Linked DNA regions of Homo sapiens. Each later gene encodes a partner of the first gene's protein in a complex. Each region holds a gene or a part of one and is shown in the gene's direction. Other genes may lie near its edges. The genes, in order: ADCY9 and GNAS.

Evidence for each region.
Region 2: the proteins of ADCY9 (region 1) and GNAS are in contact, whole or in part, in a cryo-EM structure (PDB 9U3P), measured with the Homo sapiens proteins. Residues at the interface, in NP_001107.2 of Homo sapiens: Ala381, Phe382, Arg383, Phe1070, Glu1072, Tyr1075, Glu1076, Glu1080, Cys1081, Arg1083, Val1084, Glu1087, Asp1091, Phe1152, Asn1155, Met1156, Leu1157, Trp1158, Phe1159; in NP_000507.1 of Homo sapiens: Ile207, Glu209, Phe222, Arg228, Arg231, Arg232, Lys233, Trp234, Ile235, Gln236, Phe238, Asn239, Glu268, Leu272, Ser275, Ile276, Asn278, Asn279, Arg280, Trp281.

The regions. Positions count from the first base shown.
Region 1 is NC_000016.10:3,987,187-3,991,210, reverse strand, and holds part of ADCY9 (adenylate cyclase type 9), read left to right. Parts: intron 1-2,114; coding exon 2,115-2,217; intron 2,218-4,024. UniProt on the Homo sapiens protein: Adenylyl cyclase that catalyzes the formation of the signaling molecule cAMP in response to activation of G protein-coupled receptors.
Region 2 is NC_000020.11:58,894,421-58,897,920, forward strand, and holds part of GNAS (protein GNAS), read left to right. Parts: intron 1-1,191; coding exon 1,192-1,264; intron 1,265-3,500. UniProt on the Homo sapiens protein: Guanine nucleotide-binding proteins (G proteins) function as transducers in numerous signaling pathways controlled by G protein-coupled receptors (GPCRs).

The DNA.
Region 1 (4,024 bases):
ATACTTGAAGATCTTGTACATATTTCATTCCCCATCAGAATTCCCTAGATTTAACATTCATTGATGATTCTTGCCTCTGTCTTCACTATAATGCCTCAAAGGGTGATTTTCAGCCAGGCGCTGTGGCTCACGCCTATAATCCCAACACTTTGGGAGGCCGAGGCAGGTAGATCACCTGAAGTCAGGGGTTCAAGACCAGCCTGGCCAACAAGGTGAAACCCCGTCTCTACTAAAAGTACAAAAATTAGCTGGGCGTGGTGGCGGGTGCCTGTCATCCCAGCTACTCAGGAGGCTGAGGTAGGAGAATCGCTTGAACCCAGGAGGCAGAGGCTGCAATGAGCTGAGATCGCAGCACTGCAACTCCAGCCTGGGCAACAGAGCGAGTCTCCATCTCAAAAAACAAATAAGAAATAAATGGAGCAGCACAGCTAATAGCAGTGTCGCTTCTGCCACTTGACTGCTAAAATGTGGCCTTGTGCACATCCTCTCTGCAGCTGCGTGGTTGCTCTTCCCTCAGTCCACACTCCCTGAGTCAGGGGAGGAGAGAGGGTCAGTGTCCTGGGACAGAATTATTTCTCTTCTGAGTCTGAGAATGTTGGAAGTTACTGGATACCTGTCACAGAAAGGAGAGTGTCCGCCGTGCTGCAAGGACAGGAAGGAACACACGTGATGAGCCGTACTTTGTGTGGGGGGCACATGAGGCACTTGACATATTTCACCTGATTTACTCTTTTTTTTTTTTTTTGAGACATAGTCTTGCTGTGTCACCCAGGCTGTAATGCAGTGGCGCCATCTTGGCTCATTGCAACCTCCATCTCCCAGGTTCAAGTGATTCTCCTGCCTTAGCCACCCGAGTAGCTGGGATTACAGGCACCTGCCACCAGGCCTGGCTAATTTTTGTATTTTTTGTAGAAACGGGGGTTCACCATGTTGGCCAGGCTGGTCCCGAGCTCCTGACCTCAGGTGATCCGCTTGCCTCGGCCTCCCAAAGGTCTGGGGATTACAAGGATGAGCCACCGCGCCCAGCCTCGTCTAATTTACTTCTGATAGTCACTGTATGAGGGAGAGAGGCTAACACAGCTATATTTGCTTTCTGAAATCATGTTAACGTTCCCTTAGTTTCTAGTAATTTTCTGCAGTATAGAAAGGATATTACTATTTGCTGGCAATTCATAAATGAATGAAAGAGTCATGGAAAGCGGGGTTGATTTCCCTGCTATTAAAATCACTGAGCTTTATCATTCTGCAGGTTTCACATGCAATCTGCATATGTGACAATAGCACCAAAATTACGCTAACTATAAACACAATTTTGTGATAACAACCTGTTAGCTTTTACGGTGGCAATTACTGTCAGTGCTCTGAATGACAGGACCGCCGGTTCTGAATTATGTTTTCGTTTGAAGCCTCCAAATCCATGTAAGTACTCTCAGCACAGTGATCTGCGTGTTCTTCACAAAAGATTGTTTCAAAGAACAGAAAAGCTGCCTTCATCTTCTCCTAATCCTAGACATTAGGAATGTGTTTTCAAAAACAAGCCTCAGCAGCTCACGCTGTCATCCCAGCACTTTGGGAGGCCGAGATGGGTGGATCTCTTGAGCCCAGGAGTTCGAGACCAGCCTGACCAACATGGTGAAACCCCGCGTCTGCTAAAAAATACAAAAATTAGCTGGGTGCGGTGGCAGGCGCCTGTAATCCCAGCTACTCAGGAGGCTGAGGCAGGAGAATTGCTTGAACCTGGGAGGCGGAGATTGCAGTGAGCCAAGATCGCTGCGCCATTGCACTCCAGCCTGGGCGACAGAGTGAGACCTTGCCTCAAAAAAAAAAAACCCCAAAAAACCAAGGTTCTGATGATGTGTGCTATAATCATGGTGGATGGTCATTCTTTAACGAAGGTGAAACACAAAATATGATTATGCTTTGAGGTGCGAAGGACTTTCCACAGATCTGTTTTAACAAGGGGCAGCTGAGTGGCGTCTGTTCCACAGGCGCTTTTAGACGCAGCTGTTGTAATATACCTAATGAGCAGCGTTTTGGTAGCTAATTATGATCTGAAAACATTGGCACAGTTATGGTGCTGGGTATTGATCGACTGCATTTGTTGTGTCTTCTAGCCTGATGAAAGATTACTTTTTTAAGCCGCCCATTAATCAGTTCAGCCTGAACTTCCTGGATCAGGAGCTGGAGCGATCCTACAGGACCAGCTATCAGGAAGAGGTGCGTTCATTTCTCCTTGCGCTTTTACTAAAGAATGTGTTTGTTGTTCTCACATGGTCATTCACTGTTAGTTTTGTGCTTTACCAAGGGATGGGAACACGAAGGCGAACATTGATTTCCCACACTCTGTAAACCCTAAGTGGCAACTGTACATGAAATGTCTCTTTGCAAAGGAGGAAAAAAACCCTTTCTTTAGTCCTTTGTCTTAAAGCGCAGCCTCGCCATTACTAGCCCCTTTCCTCTGCCGTGGCATCTCCAGGCTATCCCCAGCCTTGGAAGGGGCCCCCCCACCACAACCTGTCCTGAAAGGAAACCCCCAACCTGCCCTGGAAGGAAACCCCCCCACCTGCCTTGGAAGGGGCCCCCACACCTGCCCTGGTAAAGGAACCCCCCCCACCTGCCATGGAAGGGGTCCCCCACCTGCCCTGGAAAGGAACCCCTCCCCACCTGCCCTGGAAAGGAACCCCGACACCTGCCCTGGAAGGGAACCCCCCACACCTGCCCTGGAAGGGAATCCCCCACACCTGCCCTGGAAGGGAACCCCCCACCTGCCCTGGAAGGGAACTCCCCACCGACCTGCCCTGGAAGAGCCCCCGTCCCACCTGTCCTGGAGTCTTGGGTGAGACTCTTCTCTGTTGCCCTCCCTGCTTTCTTCCCCTGAGAAGGGCCCAGGAGGCCTTCACCTCTCTCTCTAACTCCGGCTCCATGTTCCCTCTCCCGCCCCCACCGCCTTAACCCCTTGTACTTGACTTCTCAGCCCATCACCCAATCCCACTTCCTCCAAGAAGCTCTCCCCGACTGCAGACTGGATTGTACTTCCCTTCATACACTTCCTTCTCCGTGTGTGCCCCATTTTGGAATCTTTCCGTGTGTGGTTCTGGATTCGTGTTCCTCCCTCCCTAGATGCTCAGCTCTGTGAGGTAGGACCCCCGTCTCTCTCCTCCAGCCCCTCCTTACAGCCTCCAGCACAGTCCCAACACCCATCTCTCTCCTCCAGCCCCTCCTCACAGCCTCCAGCAGAGTCCCAGCGCTCACAAGTGCTCCTTAGGGGGTTGCTGGAAGGAATAATACAAGAACCTAGAGCCTGGTTTGAATCCTGGCGGCTTCCAGACTGCATTCTCTCCTCTGGGCCCAAACCTAACCTCTGAGTGTTCCCAAGTCAAGAGTGGATGCCCTCCCCACCCGGAACAAAAGGGATTTCTCACTCTGATTCCCTTGGTTCCTCCAGCAGGTCTTCATTAAACTCCGTGGTGTCCTGGCTTGGGCTCTAGAGAGACCCTGGTGAGCCCAGTAGAGCCAGTTCATGCCTCGTGGGGTGGGAGGTGCCCCCTTCCGTCAGCCTCCAAGGGACAGTGAATATCCGTTAATGTCCCAGACATGGCTCCCGGAGTGGACTTGCAAGTTGGCAGTTGGCTGGTTGGTGGCCCGTAAGGCAAAATATCGTCTCATTTAATGCTCATAGCAATGCTGTAGGGAAGCTGATGATTATCCTCCTTTTACCAAAGAGCTGACGCTGAGCAAGGCTGAACAGGTGGCTGTGGTCCCATAGCCGGGGTCGGACACGAGTGGTCTGGCTGCCAAACCAGGCGTCCGGGCCGCTTCTCGCCCTGCACTGCTGAGCCTCCCAAACAGCAGACACCTTTGCCATGCCTTCCTCCAGGCACCAAATGTACGCTCAGCCTCTGCTCTGCCAGGGACTGTTCTTGGTGCTGGGGAAGGGGGAAAGACGTGGCCTGATGGGGAGCAGGAATTAGAAACAACATCCGGAGCTGGAGGTCTGCGAGTGCCCTCCCAGCACACGGCGAGG
Region 2 (3,500 bases), on another chromosome or scaffold:
GATATTGATTACGGGCTTGTGAAAAGGCAAGTAAAGGAGGAATGCTGTGCTATCTGGGCATTAAAACAAAACAATACAATTAAAAGTTAAAAAGAAAGAAAAAGGTAATAACAGATTTGTGTGGAAGGAGGGCAAAAAAACTTCACACGTGGATTATCTGTTGGAGAATGTGCATTGCAAAAAAGATGCAAAATAGCAATCCTCCCTCTAGCTTGATGGAAATGTGTTTTTTCCATGAAACATATATGTATTTTTACAAATGAAAGATGATTTAAAATGGAGGCATGTGTTTCTACTCTTTGAGTTGGGAAGGGCTTGGAATCTTTCAAATTCAGTACTTCCCAGGGATAGTTTTCCTTTTGATTAAAGTTTTGTTCTTATGTTACTTTTTACTGTTGTTTTTGCAGTTTACCTAATGCTAATAGGGTCTCAGGAACTGTATTTGATGTTAAAGTGTGGTTTTTCCAGAAGATGACAGATAATTGATGGTCTCCCCTTTTCCTCAGCAACATAGTTGTACCCAGAGGGAATTTATCTTTAGAAAGATATAGTTTGTGAGGAAAGAGGAGGATGGATAAGTGGATAAAATGTAATGCAGTTTTAGGGGTGGATTTTTAAGTAGCCCAAGGGGTAGGAAACCTGCACAGAAAGAAGCTGCGTTGTGAAAATGTTGAGGAGGAAAGTGCTGCATCGCTACGTGATGTGGAAGAGACTGCAGTGTCTGGGCATTGTTGGGAATCCCGGGTATTTTAACCATGAAACATCTGACAACAAATTATGTGTCTAGATATGTTTATGTGTGAATGTTCATGTATCAGGGATTCAGTTTCACAGTTTTAACTTCAATTTTCTTGTTTACCCCACAAATGACAAAATTGCGTCATTCCTTCTCTTTGCCCCTTTCCAACACCACCCCACAATTTTTTAAACAATCAAAAGAAAAATTAAAACCAGCAAACCTTAAATTCTTGTTTGTTATTTGGATGGTGAAATACTGCAGGTAGACACTGAATTGGACATTGATTTCCTTTTCTCTGCGTCGAAATGTCAAGGAAAGTTGCAAGTCTGTGATTTTGTGTTTGGTTTTTTGCATGTTGCTTCTATGGAAAAACAAAACAACAACAGCAGACCTCCCTGCCCAAAGTGTTAAAATGCCTCCTTCATAACCTGAGACTTACTTTCATTTTCTAGGTGCTGGAGAATCTGGTAAAAGCACCATTGTGAAGCAGATGAGGATCCTGCATGTTAATGGGTTTAATGGAGAGTAAGTGTCAAATCTGTGCAGGGGGGCACCAAGTAAGAGGAACAGACTTTATACTAACCTTTAGGAAGTATAGGTGGGCTTTGGGGGCTGGGCAGCCAGTTTTCACTTAATTTTTCCTGATTTACATATTAGAAAATCCTGGGAAGGGCTCTTTAGGGTCCCTCACCCCCCACCCCCTTGGATCTTTGGTGCAACAAATACTACTGATGAAAGCACCAGTGTTTGTGACAAACATCTCCCTATCCCAAGAAAATCGTGCCTGGTTGCAGGGGACGCTTGACAGCACTTGGCCCCGTGACAGCCCCTCTCCGGGCCAGGTCCCTGCCACAGTCTTCGGACATCACTGCAGTGTCTTCAACGTGGCTTTGGCCGCCCCCTCGTCCGGCCCACGCTGATCACTGCAAATTCACCCCACCCCACCTCACGCAGATTTCAATGTAATGAACCAACACAGGATGTTTTAAACTATTAGGGAAACATTGTTTCCATAATATTCTCACCAGAAACAGATGTGGAAGTGGCAGCCCGTGTTTACAGTTTCTCATTTTTTTTGTCCCCCTTTAAATTACCATTATGGGTAAATCATTGTTTCCCTTTAAAACAAAAAACAAATCAGTACCCCTGCCTACAGAAAAGAAGAGGGAACATTTATTTAAAGGATGGAAAGACTGGGAGTTAGGCACTCCCAGCCTCACTGAGGGGCATTTTTGCCTTTGAGAAGTCCTCCCAGGTATCCTGGTATAGCACAATGTGGCAATCCGTAGTGGGAATGAAGATTAAACAGGAGAGACTTTGTATTAGACCTGTGAGACGAGTTAGGAAGCCCTGCCTGGCATGGGGAATGCAAACAGGGAACATTCAATAAATCGGGGAACTTGCTTTTCTCCCCAAGACCCCAGATGGGGCCTACCCATCGTTCTCGTGTAACAAAACGTGTAAAAAAAAAAAAAGAAAAAGAAAAAACAAAACAAAAAAACTAAGTTGACCAGTCTGTTTTCACTGGTATGAGAGCATTAACCGCACTAGATTTCAAGCACCTGAAGGCACTAGTTTGTAATTACTAGCTGGTTGGCACAGTCCTGTTCCCTTTCTTAAACTTGGATTCGATTGAAAATTTAACCTTGAGTTGCTTCAGCTTCCATTTCAAAAGGGGAGTTGGAGTCAAGGTGGTAGCGTTTAATTATACCAACCACCCCCCAAAAAAACAAACAAAACAAACAAAAAAACCTTTACTAGTCACTAAGCATCCAGGAAACAAAGGTGAACTTTTTCACCTTTCAGAGCAAGGCAGGCAGCTCCTTATAGAGAATTCTAGAATTTGTTAGATCAAATAATTGTTTAGAGAAGGATGACATCACCCATACGAATAGTCCTGTTAGTTGAGGATGCTTTTTCTACTTTAACCCTGAATTCAGAAGGATTGGTTGGGATGCACAGGGGGCTTCTTCACTCATCTGATTATGACTCTCAATGGGTTATCAACATGCACATACGTGCTATTGAGTAAGTCAGCATCACTTGTCACCAACCAATTCCGAAATTAATTCTTGACACACCCCTCGATAAAGCCCTGCCAGCGGAGACTGCCATCCTGACAATAAATAAATAACCCTGAGACAGACTTCCAACCATGAATCTGTCATTTGAAGAAAAATCTTGCATAAATTTTCCCCCTGCAACTTGCAGGAGTACTTACTTATTCATGAGAGTAGTTAAGCAAAAATAATTTGACCATGTATCCTCTAGATAAATATTTTGATGAAAACTGGACATGGCTAGCATTTTTCAAAGATGCAGCAGCCACTGTTTACCTTAGCTTGAGTCGGATGGAAGCTAAGTCACCTTTGAAATAAATTACTGACAGCTTCATTACAGATTGCCCTAAAATTTAAAAATTTTTATAGAAAGGATTCTCCTCCCTAAGCGAGCCAGCCTGTAACACCAGGCAAGGGTTTTAAACCAGAACTTCTCTTTTCTGTTTTCTTTTTGGAAAGAGGAAGCAACATTCCCAGTTTGCCTTCTTTGCAGACAAGGGCACAGATACGTTAAATTTAGCCTGTGAGAGGGTTTACAGGGGTATTCCTCATGGGAGCCTAGATACCTTATTTTTATCTCATCCAACTGCCTCCTTTTTTCTTTTTCCTCACTGCGGTATTGCAACAAAAGCTATTTCCTTCTTAACTAGGAATTCCCTATGAGACAGTGACATCTGTCCCTAAAGGGTGGTCTGGGTGGT